2 linked regions of the Homo sapiens genome follow. The main gene of each other region encodes a partner of the protein of the gene in region 2 in a complex. Each region holds a gene or a part of one and is shown on either strand. Other genes may lie near its edges. A codon is read from its position in the direction of its gene.

Region 1 (7,151 bases), on a different chromosome or scaffold from region 2:
TCCATCTGGTTGTCTTCTTTGACTTTATTTATTTATTTTGAGATAGTCTTGCTGTCTCACCCAGACTCATGTGCAGTGGTGTGATCCTGGCTCGTTGCAACCTCCACCTTCCAGGTTCAAGTGATTCTCTTGCCTCAGCCTCCTGAGTAGCTGGGATTACAGGTGCCTGCCACCACACCCAGCTGATTTTTGTATTTTTAGTAGAGATAGGGTTTCACCATGTTGACCAGGCTGGTCTCAAACTCCTGACCTCAGGTGATCCACCCACCTTGGCCTCCCAATTCTTTGACTTTAAACTCAAAAGAGAGTGGCTATATCTGAAATCTTCAGTTCCAGTTTTCCTCTGATTCTTGAATTTTCTTCTGTTCTCACTGTGTCCACTCTCTTAATAGTGTTTTTGTTTATCTGGCACTTTCTCAAGTGGTTCTTAAGCTTTGCACTGGGCAAAAACAAACAAACAAAAACATAAAACAAAAAACAAGTGTAGGGTCCCTTAGAAAATATTTCTGAAAAAGGAAAAGTTGCCTCCAATGGGAAATCGAGGAACTTCTTGCAATGAATGAAACTCGAGGCATTTCTAACTGTATCTCCAAATGAACCCTGATTATCCATGCTTCTTTTTCAAGCAGGTGGCCTAGAAGAATCGGCAGTGACAGGAATTGTCGTGGGGGCTTTACTAGGAGCTGGCTTGCTAATGGCCTTCTACTTTTTCAGGTGAGGACGGTTTGTAAAGGTACAATTCACTCTCTTCTGCTGTCTTTGTCATTTGATTTTACATGATTCTCTTTGTGATTTGTCCACATCCCTCTTTCACCCAGGAAGCACGGTGGTTAAAAAATCTCAGCCATTCTTTTGGCAGGACCCCAGGTTTGGTGTGGTCAGTGGTTTAGCATACTGGGTGCCAGGGTCATGGGTTTTGACTACATCTCACAGTGGGACAGAGAGCTGCTGCTGCCCTTTGATCACAGATTTTTTTTTTTTTTTTTTTTTTTTTTTTGAGACGGAGTCTCAGTCCCCCTGTTACCCAGGCTGGAGTGCAGTGGCACGATCTCTGTTCACTGCAACCTCCACCTCCTGGGTTCAAGCAATTCTGCCTCAGCCTCACGAGGAGCTGGGACTACAGGTGCAGACCACCATGGCTGGCTAATTTTTTGTATGTTTATTAGAGATGGGGTTTCACCATGTTGGCCAGGTTGGTCTTGAACTCCTGACCTCCAGTGATCCATCTACCTCGACCTCCCAAAGTGCTGGGATTACAGGTGTGAGCCACTGTGTCTAGCCCTTTGATCACAGATATTCTGACAAGAATTCCTACCACCCACCAAGTGAAGCAGTGGGGAGGGAATCTGGATAAAGGGGGAAATCAACTTCCCCCTTCTCAGGCTTTCTCCAATTCAGAAATAGATGCCTGGGCTCACCTTAAAGAGGAGGAGGGAGCTTTGCGTAGCCCATGCTCTCAGGCTGATCTGTGCTCAGTATCTGGAGAGCCCACATGCTCATTTGCCACTGTGGTTAAGCTCCAAGGCTTGCAAAATTGTAATAATGTACGTGTGTGCACTGGTACTGATTGTTCTGCCCCGTGAGGGTGGCCCATTCCTTTGTAATCTTTGGTGGTTGAGTTTGTGGTTTATTCATAAGTCATTAGAGCAAGGTTTCTTTATTTCTGCATGGGATTGTAACTAGGCATATGTGACCCTTTGTGGGAACAATTGTATTCCTGTTCCTTTGGCCACAGTACATGTAATTTGATCTTTATCAAGGGCATATCCTGGGAATCAGGGAGAACTTCTGTAGCCTAATAGACAAGACCTAACCCCCAAGGCACCCAGGGAAGAAGGGGAAGGCTTGTTCTGTGGTATTTGGGAAAGCATGCCAATTTTCTCTCTTGAATAAGGGCACCATGCCTGGGGGCACACTACTTTAATCTCTGACCAGGGTTTCATATTCTGTCACTTCTCATTTATCAACTGAAACCCAGATGTCCCTTGAGGGCACTCTTTGTAAGAGAAACCATGGTATTTTGTAGCCAAGTTTTATTACCACATTCACTTTCCCTTTACCCAGGAAGAAATACAGAATAACCATTGAGAGGCGAACCCAGCAAGAAGAAAGTAACCTTGGAAAACATCGGGAATTACGGGAAGATTCCATCAGATCCCATTTTTCAGTAGCTTAAAGGAAGCCCCCCACTTTTTTTTTTTCTGCCTGAGATTCTTTAAGGAGATAGACGGGTTGAAAGACATCAATGAAACAGAAGGGGCGTTCTTGAAGAATTCATAATTTTAAGCAGTTAGTAATTTCATTTTAAAATTTCTGTAGAAGCTCAGGAATTATGATTAATCACCATCTGCCTCCAGGCCTTTCATCTCATGACAAACAAATATAATAATGATATCGTGTCACTCTGTTAAATGTTCATACTGTTTCAAGCCCATATGATTAGATTTATGTTTTTAAAATCTGTTGTCTCCATATCTTGATGGCTTTTGGGAGCATTTCACACAAGGATATAAAATGCGGTTTTCTTAAATGAAATGTTTTGTAGCTAGAATAAAATCATTTTTACAAGTACAGCATTCTTGGAAAGAATTTAACACCCAAAAAGGGGAAAATGTAATGAAAAATCTCAAGGTTGGAAATACAGCCTTACTCTCTCTAGAGCTGGAGGACAGGTTTGTGGTTGAGGACTTCTCTGTCCGATGTCTACATTCAGGTTCTGACTTCATATCTTGAAAAAGGATTTCCTCCCTGTCTTTTTCAGTGTCTCATAAACGCTACTCTGGATTGTTGTAAATATTAGTGAGATGGGAGGATTTACAGAAGAAAAGCAAGTCAAAAATATTTCCTTTTTGATGTAAAAAAAAAAAGCCCTATTTCGCACTAACATTTTATTTTACAAGTATTTTAATCTTATATTTTGGTATTAGAAAAATTTGTCTATTTTTTCATTTTGAAGATTAAATGTTGCTTACATTTTAAAAGCATGGGTGAAGTGTACAACAAACCAATAATGATAAAAAATACTTCTCTTTTTCTCCCTGTTTCCCTTTTTCCCTTGGCCACAGCCAAATGCTAATTGCTGCTTTAATTACAGAGATGTGTAAATGTATTCAGATTACAAACTCTACAGGAATACATCAACATTTTAACTCTTTTGCGTTTTTACTGTTTAACTGTTTTAAATGCAAGTTATTTTAGGGTGACACTCCTTCCAGTTCTGGCCAGATCATGAGTTTCAAGATCAAGAGTAAAAAGTTATTAGAATTAAACAGTTTTATAAAGGGAGGCAGCCCTTTTCCCTCAAGAACAACTTTGTTGAGAGTTACTACTTGACAGCAAGCACAGAAATGACAAATTTAAAACTTTTACACATGGCATTTACCAAAATTCCCAGTGATTATTTTGTTTAAAAGAGGGAACCTAAATATCTACTCTATTCCCTTTCAGTTAACTCCACAGAACTTTGTAGGCATCCATGAATACCTGTAATAGTGGGTTAGGTGTGGAGATAAGGAATTTGGACAAAGTTGAGTAAGTTTTTACTGGGTATCTGCTTTGCACCCAGTAGTCTGCAACATGAGTTTAAACTCAGGTTACTACTTTCACTTATACTTTATGGAGAAGATAGACAGTGAGGGAGGAATGGGAAGCTGTCATGAGAGTGCACCGTCTTGGAATTACATAACTGGGGTCTTTCCTCAATAACATTTTGAGCATCTGAAAAATAGTTTAAAAAATTGTCTTAATATCTATTAAAAGGCATGTCTAGTGAGGAAACAGGAGAGTCTGAGCAATCCCTTGGTGGCGATGAAGGTGGTAGTTCACACAAGTAACAGTGGAGGCAAAGGTAAGCGCAAGCTGCCTGTCCCAGATGCTGGCCCATGTGTGAGTGCTTCCCTGGAGAAGTCCGCTTCTGTTGCTCCCACCTGAGTCACAGTTAACAGATTATTTCTGTGTGAGGCACATTTCCCTTCTGTTGTTTAAGAAATGGGAGCTGGGAGGCAGCTGAGAGGGCGTGATAAAAGAATTAAGTGTGATCAACTGAAACAACTATGTTGTAGTTCTCCATGCTGGATGCAAAGGAAAAAGTGTCGAATTCCAAAAAGGATGGAAGAAGAAGGCAAGAAGGGCAAACTCCAGAAGTTCTAGTGCAGGAAGAGAGTTTGAGAAGTAAAATCCAGGCAAGCAAAGCGTTGTACCACTTGGGACTCCCCAAAGTGAAACAGCAAGGAAGGATTGTGTCCATCTTACTTACTTGAATTGGAGAGCTTGTTTCTCTCTCATTTTTATTTTTCAATGATGTTTTCTTTATATTTTAGAGATATTCATTTTCTCTTATCTTGTGCTTGTAAAAAGCATTTACATTTCAAGTCTATGTGCTTATTACAGGGGAAAAATAATCTACCTGGTTGCAGTCTTTGAGTATAAACATTTCTAACCTTTTTAAAACTTCTATAGCAGCCCATTAACACTAACATTTTTAGAGCAAATATATTCTATTTTAACTTCAGGTAGAGGAATAGTCCTAAACTTAATATGATAGCTCTAGATAAGATCTTAGAGATAAGTGAGCATTTAGTATTCTAAAAGTGGCAGAACAAATCATGAGGTTTCTGGATGCTATACCAATTTAAAATCAATTCTTATGTTAATATTGATTGCTTATTTACATGTCAGTCATCTACTTTTTTTCTTTGAAATCTGCATATGGGTTACAAAAACTCTGTTAGGTTTTGAAAATTCCATTAAGTTGGAAACCTTGGTTAAAAATGTAGGTGCCTGGCCCATGGTTACCCTGGATTCAGGTCTCTCATGATTATATTTGGGGATTTACGTTCCTAACTGCTAAGCAACATCTTTGACAACTAGTAATTCATACTCTACTAGTAGTCACATGTCATATAGTAAAATAAATAGGGCTTTAGTTCTTAAGTAATTCTATAGGATTTTACCCTGAAATCCAGGGTGTTCAGATTTCAAAAAGGATAATTTATCAGTATTTTCTCATCCAGTCAAACTTCAGCTGACATTGATACAGGTCAAAATGCGTAGATGCTTTTTGGTGTTGGAAATAAGTGTCTGTCTTATGGTCATCATTGTCTTCTTAGATTTTTGGGTAGGGGGGCCAGGTAGGGGGAGACTCAGAAATAAAAGCGTTCCCCAGATAACTTCAATCTGGAAAGAATTTTTTGTATAGAGTCCATCTCTCCCTCAAGACTGACCACAGGTTTCATGAGAAGGTCCCTGAAAACATCACATTTCTCTGAAGAACCATCAACTTGTCTTTTCTTGAACCACAGGAATGGTTCTACAGACCCTACTATAATTCTTCACATTTCAGAACCCATGTTTAATGGAGGGAAGAGAGAAATGCATGGGAAAAGAACACCTCCTTTTCTCCTTTCTCTTAAATTCAAAGACGTTTGCTTTGGAATGCCCTCACTTCTCCCTATTCACAGGCTTCTAAAATCATTAATTTACTCAAGGCACATGTGCCTTCTTTGCCCCAAATGCATCACTTTCCTTTTAGTTATGGCTGATTTTGGGTGTGTGTGTGTAAGACATGCAGTCAACAATGAGATGAAGGCCATTGCATAGATCTCATGCAGATAGTGATGGATTCAGAAAGTAGGTTCCAGTGGCGTCACTACCTTCTTGTAAGCCAGTATACACTGGCTATTTGTGGAAATCTCTTTGGGAGATCAAATAGAGTATTATGCCACTGTGAGTGTTTATAAACTGGAAGGAACAAGTACCTGTGTTTCTTGGGACACAAAGCACTCAGATCCTGAGTGGATGCAGACATGAGAGTAAATGTCAGCCCAAATTAGGCCCCTCGACCTACAGACATTTCATGGGTTTTATTTAATCACACCCCATGGTTTGGGGCTACATGAGGAAGTTGGTAATGAGCTGAATTTCTTATTCAGTGGAAAAAACTGAAACTGTCTAAAAACACGGGATATATTTTAGAGGCAATTGTGGAAGCGGAGAGAATGAGATGATGGTGTTCAGAGGGACCAGCTTCTTTTTCAGTTGTCTTTAGAACTCAAGAATAATCAATAATTTAGTGCCCCTTCAACAGCCATACTCAGCAAGAAGAATCAGAAGCTTGATCCTCTAACAGAAATAGAAGAGGGTAGCTTTGCCCATTGCCACTGTCTTTACTGCCCCTTCTGCCCCTCCACCCACATCCACATTCAGCATCACTCCAAGGATGTGTCAGCATCTTGCCCATGCAGGTAGAAATTTGTGAGTAGGCCTCCATACTTCCTCGGGGGAAGAAAGAGAAACTAGTGCTGGTTTTAAGAATGTAGCTGGCTTTTCATCAGAACCCTTATGCTAACCTGACCACACTTGCTCTCGGGGAAGTTCAAGCCTGTGATGTGCATAAACTCCAACAAGCCTGGCTTTGGTGTTCAGCATGCACATTCCATAAATATCTCTTGCAGGCATACCCCACAGCTAGACTGCAGGATTAAAATAACTTCCAAAAGGTGCTGGATTGGAGTTTGTTCAAATTTCTCATTAACCACTAATGTTAATTCATACCAAATGCAAAGTATTCTAAACCAGCTGATGCTGTCAGTGTTCAAGTTTTAAGTGACTTCAAACACAATGGAAGTGTTTCAATGGGAGCCAGATCTCATGAGTAAAAATCCATTTTATAATAGCTCTGTGATATATCAGTGGGAGATGATTCATAGGGGAGAGATTTGAACAAGCAGAATTAAGTGTTAGCAAAAATGCTGCATTGCTTTGATTCATGTTTAAAGACCTAAATTTCTATGCACAAGGAATAAAGGGCCTACTTACCAAGTGTAAATCACAACATAGGCTACCAAAATATTTCTTATTTGCTAGGAGAACAAAGCTGTCACGGTGCATGATAGTTGGACAGAGATGGCTAAAAAAGAGGCAAATTCAGATTTGGAAACAGGGTGGCCTCTTCATTATTTATTGCCAAGATCTGAAAATCTTCAACATCTTATAAGACAACAATGAAGTAGCCCCTGAACAGCATGGAGTTGCTGTGAGTTTGTTCGTTGCAGACCTTTGTGTTGGGTCCTGGGAATCTGAGCTTTGTTCCCTGTGCATGGTGGATAATTGAAACCAAGAGGACATGGGATAGACCTTGTGACAGACCAATT
Region 2 (7,430 bases):
CAATGAATACCTAGAACCATCAACCACCATCATTACGGTGGCTTAGAGCCCAGGTCACCCACTGCGTGGAGAAACAGCCACAACCTCAAAGAGTTTTCATTAATGTGAAAAATCTAAGCTGTCTTTCTCTTTACGCCCAGTGATATATCCTGGGCATCGTCACCAGGAGCCTGCAGGAATGATGTTCTGCTCTCTCACTGGGAATGGGGGGCAGTGAGGGTGGGGTTTTTATTTTTCATTTAAAAAATCCCAAATAATAAATCCACACCGCCCTTCCCAAATAATAATAAAACAGCTGGTGTTGGGCGTAAGCCGGTGTTGAAGGTGTCGACGGTAAGTGTTCATCTATGCTAAGAGAGCTGGTAGGAGATTATTGAACCCCCCTGATCAAAGGGGTCGAGAATTCTTAACAATGTGGATTCCTCCTACACAGCATCTTTCACCACCCGTTTGGCCATCACTTGGTGACCACAGACATCCAGGCCCAAGAACAAAGCCCCTGTGGGGATGCGCATTCCAGGTACGAACCAATGGAGAGTCACTAACATTTGCTCAGGTTCTAAAGTTTGAACTTGATGCTTAAATCAAACTGAAAATTTGAGGCCTCAGACTCCGTCTCTTTGTTGTTTAGACAGGAGAGAAGAGAGCAAAGGCATTCCAAGGGTAGCTACTGAAGGCTGGTCCCCAAGTGTCAGAATCATTCTTCTCCCTGTGCAGGGGAGAGTCAAGATCACAGACAACTACAGCCTTTGCAGAACTGGGGAGAGGCCCACAGCCGAGTGAGGTCTGGCTGCAAAGAGAGGAAGGGCACTGGTTAAAACCTCGGGCAGGTGGGAGTGGCCATGGGCCAGGGTGTGCTGGTTTCTCTGGTCATTGACAAATATTTCCACGAGTCTGTTCGGGGTGCAGTGGGTCCTAGAGTGCCTTAGGCCAGCACTTCGCCCTTAAGCTGTTCAATATGGAGAGGTGAATGGGTTCACAAACTGTGAAAAAGTGTTCTGTACTGTAAAAAAGAGACAGTGTGCTGGACAGGCGCTCTTGTTTCCCTCCGGGAGAAGATCCGACACTGACAAGGGTTTCTGGGGAGGAGACAGCAGCTTGCCCGTAGCCTGGGATGGGACAGTCAAGGTGTGGGACAGGCAGTGGCAGCTGCTGAGCTGGAGGCAAGAAAGCGAGAAAGCCAGGTAAGCCTGATCCTAACGCACATGACTGTCAATGTCAGAGGCTGGGATGTTATTCAGTGGGCACGGGCAGGCGGCAGGAATAGAGAGGAGGGAAAGAGGAGAGGTGAGGCTCTCTGCAGCAGTAAATTACCACCACGCGGCACCCGGCAGGGGGTGGCGGTAGGGCAGAGGTTTCCAGCCCTAGTGCGGGGTGAGACCCCACACCAGAAACGGAGCCCAGAGCACCGGTTGGGTCGGGACAGGGTTGGTGAGGGACTCTGGGACGTGTTGAGTTCGAGGCTGGGGCAAATAATATTTACTTTAGTGTCTTTCCTATTCCCTGAAATAGTGCCACAAGCACTGAGATTCACCCCCGAAGCCACCAGGCTGCAGCTGCCTCAGGACCCTGGACAGACCAGTTTGCCCACTGCCTGGGTTTAGAGAAGGGACAGGAATCGGAGTGTCCCAGGCAGAAGGGCGCTCTGACAGTGCCAGCAGAGGGCTACTCTCACTACAGGGGGCATGGTGGCCAGCAGATGATCGATGTCCCCTGGACTTGTGGGTGTAACCTTCCTTCTCTGCTCCCACAAACCCATGATCTCCTCTCAATCCCCCCACCAGCTGGCCAATAGGGGCCAGTGCTGCTAGTTCAGCTACGGTTCAGGGGTGGGTGAGACACCACCAAGCCTGTTTCTGCTTCTCCAGAAGAAGCCAGGTGGGTTCAACCAGGCTGAGCCGTTTCTGACCTTGCCAAAGTTCCCCGATCACGTTATCCTTCGCTTTCTTTGTCTGTAAAGTGGGATAATAAAGGGGGCGGCTGGCAAACGCCTAGCACAACTTGAGCAAAGGCGGCTCGCGCGCCTCCGAAGGCCGGCTGGGCGGCGGGCGGTCCCGGGCCGGGCTGGGGCTGGGCGTCGGGTGGGCCGTACTCACCGCCGCCAGGGGGCGCCGCACTAACATCCCAGGCCGCTCATGGAGCCGATTCGGTCCAGCTTGAGGCCGAAGCAGCCCTTGGACAAGCCCTTCTTGTTGGCTCCTTTGTATTTGCGCGCGTTGGGGTGCTCTTGCAGAAGGCGAGCCCACGCTGCCCGCGACTTGGTGTCCACGCGCAGGTCCCGGAGCAGTCGCGACCGGTCGCCCTTGAGATTGGCGCCCCCGCCCCCGGGAGCCTTGTCGCCCTTCTTCTGACCGCCGCCCGCAGCCTGCGGCTCGGCCAGCTCCTCTGCCGGCGGGGTTCGCGGGACCTGTCCGAGGAAAGAGCGGGCAGGTGAAGGGACACGCGGCTGCAGCACGGGGGACTCTGATGCTCCAGCCCCACGCGCCCGCCGGCGCGGGGTGTCCCTCCCAAGCCCAGAGCCGCCCCCACCGATGCCGGCCAGCTTGGCCCCGCATCCACCTGCCACGCGGCCGCCTTCGCCGCTCCCTCCGGAAGCCCCCTGCCCTCCCTTTGCTGCTCGCCGGGCAGGCCACACTGGGGTAGGGGGCTGCGCATGGGCCGATGTTCTCCGGAGGCTGGAGAAGTGGACCCCCGAATCCGCGCTTCGAGGGCTCCCCGGCTCTCGCCCACGCGCATCTCGGAGGAGACAGCCGCCTGCCTTCCCTCTCTCCTGGGTCCTGCGCGCCGCATTCTCCAAGCCCCCAGCCTCCCACGCCTCTCCCAGGCTCGGCGTCCCCACGACAGCACCCACCTTCGGCGGCGCCCCGGGCTTGGCTTCGGAGGGCCGGAGGGAGAGCAGCGTGAGCAGCAGGGCGCAGGCCAGCAGCTGGGAGAGATGCATGGTGCCGCTGGGGTCGAGGGGCGCACACGGGCGGCAGCGAGGGCGCGCAGGTCGGCGGGCAGACCAGCAGGGGGATGCGGAGCAGGCTGGCTGGGCTGCAGGGCGAGCAGGGTCCCAGTGCTGCGCGGCGCCGGCTGGGTGCGCTCTGAGCCCGTGACTCTGCTCGCGCCTTTATAATCCAACCTGCCGCTGATGTCATCCTCCCGCCCACCGGGCCGCCCGGGCCAATGACACCACGCACGCGGCCGCGCCGAGGGCCGGGAGGGGGCCGCGGGGGCTCCCCTCCCTTATCCCACCCCGGAGGGATCCCGCGGCTCGGCGGGCTCGCTCCAGGCTGCACTTGGAGCTGCAGAGCTGAGCGCACAGGGGAACTCCATTTGCAGCGAGCGCGCGCCCTGGCCTGCCGAGCATCGGTGCGCCTGGTGCCCTGTGCACCCACTAGGTCCTCATCGCACTCACTCTACCTGGAAGGGATACGTAGCCCTCTTTGCAGGTGCAAAGACAGGCTCAGAGGAATGAAGTCACTTGCCCAAAGTCATACAGGCATAAAGTTGGCGCTGCCCGAAATCCACGCAGCCCTGCTTGTCGCCAAACTCTTCCCTGGGCACCTGACAGCCGCGGGATGGCATTGCAGCTCCGCCTTTCACCTGCCGGTCAGGGCGGGAGCGCAGACCACAGCGACGTCGTTAGGTTGGGGAGGCAGAGGATGGGGTTGGAGGACTGGGGTGGGAGGCGCAGGGAGAGCGGGGTTCGCCTGGGCCGCAGGGGGGAGCGCAAGTCTTCCACACTGGAGAGTGCAGGGGTGTCGCCAGCCTGAGTGTTTGAGCGCAAGGCGGGAACGAGGGGACTGCGAGCGCGGAACCAAGATATTCATGCTCATGCGTGTGCTCCGCGGCATCGTATGCTCGCCAGTTACTGCTCTAGGTTCACGTTCAGCCGGTTTCGGCCACACAGAACGTCCCGGGGTCTGACTCCGCTGGTGAACTCCCTCTGTGGGAACAATGCGCACCTGACCTTGCCTGCACCCACGCGAGGATCCGCTGCTGGGGGAAGCCCGCTCCAGTATCCTGTGCACTTTCACAGGCTGGGGAGAGAGCTTCCTAGCCAGCGGCCCAGTCCAGCCTCTGCCAGCCGTGACAGGTGGTCAACTTCCCGTTTTTGACTGTAGAGAGGTCCCCGTGGCTCTCGGGACATGGCCACATATCCCTACCACTCACGAACTTGCTCTCCTTGCACTGGGCTTCTCGGTCCCTTGGACACTAAGGAGTGTGGTGGGCATTTGGGCACTGCGGTGTGGGCCGCAGAGGCGGAGAGCCCAGATCCCCCGAATTGATTGAAGAGCAGGAATCTATGACTGGCTGCTGCTGAGCAGGACGCAGGCTGGAGAGAGAACAAATGTTGCCGCAGGAGTGCAGTGGCTGTCCCCAGGCGTGAAGGCGATTCTGGGGAGACAGTAGCCCAGACGAGATTTTCCAGGGAGAGGAAGCTGTGCCTGAGGCAGGAAGGCAACTGGAGTGAAGAGGGGCTTGGAGAACCAGGTTCCCTCCAAGCCTCCCTCTTCCCTCCGTGGTAGTGAGCCTGGTCCCAGAGCTGCTAAGGCGGCCGCATCATGGTCTGCTCTGTCGGCACCTTTCTCAGGCTACCCCTTCCCACTCTCATACCCTGACTCACAACATTGGAGCAACCACTACACAGGTCACTTTGCTTAGGAAACAGCTAACACCTGAGGTCTGAGTTTGGGGCAGCAAAGTTTCCTGATCTCCAGGAAGATCCAGACATCAACAGGGCACCTTCTGTGGATTCTGGTGAATTGAGTCACCACCTCCACGCAGCCCCCCAATTCCTCTCCGTGCTAACACCCATAGAGTGGCACCACTCTTTCATTTGAGGAGAAAGGAAGAGGAACTAGAAAGCAGTATAGGGAGGGGTATCCAGGTGGGCTGTGAAAGTTCCCTCTGCTTTTTGCCTGCTGTGCAAAGAAGGATGTTACCATCTGGAACTTCTCTGACACTTGCTTTCTTTATACCTGTTTAAAGAGTCAGGCAGAGCCACACAGACTGACTCTAGAGTCAAGCACTGGGCTGGTTTCCAGGGGCCAGCAGTACATCCTCTAAAGCCCCTTATTAAGGAAATCTTCCGCTGTTCATGGCTACTTCCTTCTGTCTGAACGTCCTTAGGTTGGTCCTTCCTGTCTTCTGTGTTCCTAGACACATTCGCGTCCAGGTGATTGACTATCTAGGTCTCCTCTCTGTTTGAACTTTGAGGCTAAATTAATAAAACTGACACCCCCAACCTACTGTGGCAGAGCCGATTCCCTGGACTCACCTTCCCATCTTTGGAAGGGAAATCTGGTGAGCTGCCACTCCTGACCACTGGGCGGTGGTCATCTGCAGAGGGAGGCTTCCCGGGGGGCAGGCTGTGGAGCAGCTTCTGCTTAGCTGGGGCCTGGGAGGCAGGGTGGGTAAGAGTCAGAGGCCTGGGCAGGAGGGGCCACCGGGAGGTGTGCCATCAGCACATAACTGCCTTGGAGATGAAGGTTTCCCCTCTCCCTTTGCTTTCCTTGCCTGGGGAGCTGCAGAGGACGCCCACTCTTCCTCCTGAGCCTAGATTTGGAACTCAGGTCCCTTTTTGTTGCTTTTCCCTTACGAAGTCTGCTTCTTCTGCCCCAGGCCCCAGGGGCATGGCCTGGGAAAGTTGAACTCACTGAGCAGCTGAATATGAGCTATTCAAGTCATTTTATTGACTGCTCAATTTTAAATTTCCTCCTAACGGCAAAAGAGGGAGAAAAGGCCCCAAGGCCGCGGTAATTCTGTAAGGAATCATGTCGTTCTCACTGATCTCGCTGATCTCCCGGTATCTACTGAGCATCCCTGAAGCCTGCAGGGTTCCATCCAGCCGGGAAGAACCCCCTAGCAGACAGACATGAGCTTTGTAGGCTGAAAAGGACAATGACAGGGAAGGGGACAGGTCAGGCTGAGGCCACCCAAGGAGGGCTCCTCCTCCAGCCTGGACTAGCAGGGTGGGCTTCCTGGAGAAGGAAAAGTCTGTGCTGAGCCTGGAAACACAGGAAGAGAAGGGAAGAGAAGAGGAAAACCTCGACAGAAAACCAGGCTAACAGTGGAATGTACTAGAGTCAGGCCTAGAGGGGTGCTGTTTGAGAAAAACCAAATGAGAGGCCTCACCAAAGGGCAACACAGAGGGCAGGGGAGGCCGATGAGACTGCAGAACCCCATGTGCCCAGACCTCGGGAGGGTGGAGTGCTTCAGGCAGGGGTGCCCAGAGGAGGCAGACTAGGGAGAGGCAATTCTAAGGTCGATGGTGTTCTGGAGGTGGGGGGTGTGATGGAGAGAGAGGAGCCTGCTGAGCTCTTGGGGGTGGGAAGGGCAAGTGAGCTTATTGGGGGTGCCTGAAGATGAGGCAAGGGGAAGGGGGTCAGCTAGGTGTGGGGGAAGTGGGAGGGAGCAGGAAGTGGGAGGCAGAGCCAGCCTGAAGCATGCAGAGCCTTCAGTGTCAGAGAGTTGCATGGGCGAGTCCAGGGTATCAGCTCTGCCACAGTAGGCTGGGGGTATGCAGGGCCTTCAGCGTCGGAGAGTTGCATGGGTGGGACCATTTTCTCCCTTCTGGCCCTCTGAAGGGCGGGACCCCGTTTTGTGGGCCCCTTTTCACTCTTTCCCTCCTCCCAGAAGGGCAAGGTGCGACTCTGACACCTACTGGAGAGGGGCCCTTCCTTGGGACAGGCGATGTCTGGCCAGGAATCAGGATGTGATAGAAAATGAGAGTGGGCCCTGGTCAGGATGCCTGGTGGGAGAAAGGCGTGTGGAAGGGCTGCTGGGAGGCTGGGGAAGGAGCAGCTAAGACAGGACTGTCCAGCCTAGGTCCCCAGGAGGGAGGAACAGGAGCCCCGCGAAGCAGCGCCCCCTCCTGGCCCCAGGGCTGCAGGGGAGGGCTCTCAGGCACACTGGAGGGGAGGATTGCAGAGCCGCCCATCTGTTTCTCTGCAATTGTTTATCCCGGGGCCCCCTTCCAGCTGCATAATTTCTCAGAGAAGACACTAAACAGGCAGTGAGCGAGTCTTGAGGTCAGGCAGGGAAATTGCTGCGGGACACTGGCCAAGTCCCGTCACTGCTTTGGGCCCTCAGTTTCACCACCTGTAATTAGAAAAACACTGTCCTTGTCTTCTAGACAGGGCAGAGTGAATCTGGGGCCTGATAAGAGGCTTCCAACCTCTCCCTGGCCAAACACAGCAGGAGACAGCTGAGGCAGAAGAGAGATCTGAATGTCACTGCATGTCCACACATACTTTTGGGTGAGAGGACCCCCACAGCCCCCGAAACTCCCCAGGACTGTTTAGTGGTGCAGCCCCTCAGAGCACACAGAGGCCGGGGCATGGCCAGGTCTCCTTGAGCTTGGTACCTTCCTCCAGGAGTCCTGCACCCATGGCGCTGGACTGGAGTACTGGAGGAGATGGAGGCCAAGGAAGCGTCATTCA

Evidence for each region.
Region 1: the proteins of NPPC (region 2) and NPR3 are in contact, whole or in part, in a crystal structure (PDB 1JDP), measured with the Homo sapiens proteins. Residues at the interface, in NP_077720.1 of Homo sapiens: Gly109 (codon at 2,173), Cys110 (codon at 2,170), Phe111 (codon at 2,167), Gly112 (codon at 2,164), Leu113 (codon at 2,161), Lys114 (codon at 2,158), Leu115 (codon at 2,155), Asp116 (codon at 2,152), Arg117 (codon at 2,149), Ile118 (codon at 2,146), Gly119 (codon at 2,143), Ser120 (codon at 2,140), Met121 (codon at 2,137), Ser122 (codon at 2,134), Gly123 (codon at 2,131), Leu124 (codon at 2,128), Gly125 (codon at 2,125), Cys126 (codon at 2,122); in NP_001191304.1 of Homo sapiens: Asn110, Tyr138, Ala141, Pro142, Arg145, Ala161, Gly163, Phe164, His166, Glu170, Tyr171, Tyr204, Lys208, Leu209, Arg211, Tyr214, Phe215, Leu217, Glu218, His221, Glu222, Gln225, Ile233.

Annotation. Positions count from the first base shown.
Region 1 is NC_000005.10:32,784,170-32,791,320, forward strand, and holds part of NPR3 (atrial natriuretic peptide receptor 3 isoform 1 precursor), read left to right. Parts: intron 1-626; coding exon 627-714; intron 715-2,064; coding exon 2,065-2,176; 3' UTR 2,177-7,151. UniProt on the Homo sapiens protein: Receptor for the natriuretic peptide hormones, binding with similar affinities atrial natriuretic peptide NPPA/ANP, brain natriuretic peptide NPPB/BNP, and C-type natriuretic peptide NPPC/CNP.
Region 2 is NC_000002.12:231,923,309-231,930,738, forward strand, and holds the start of NPPC (C-type natriuretic peptide preproprotein), read right to left. Parts: upstream 3,089-7,430; 5' UTR 2,942-3,088; coding exon 2,852-2,941; intron 2,408-2,851; coding exon 2,117-2,407; 3' UTR 2,097-2,116; intron 1,158-2,096; exon of another isoform or gene 1-1,157.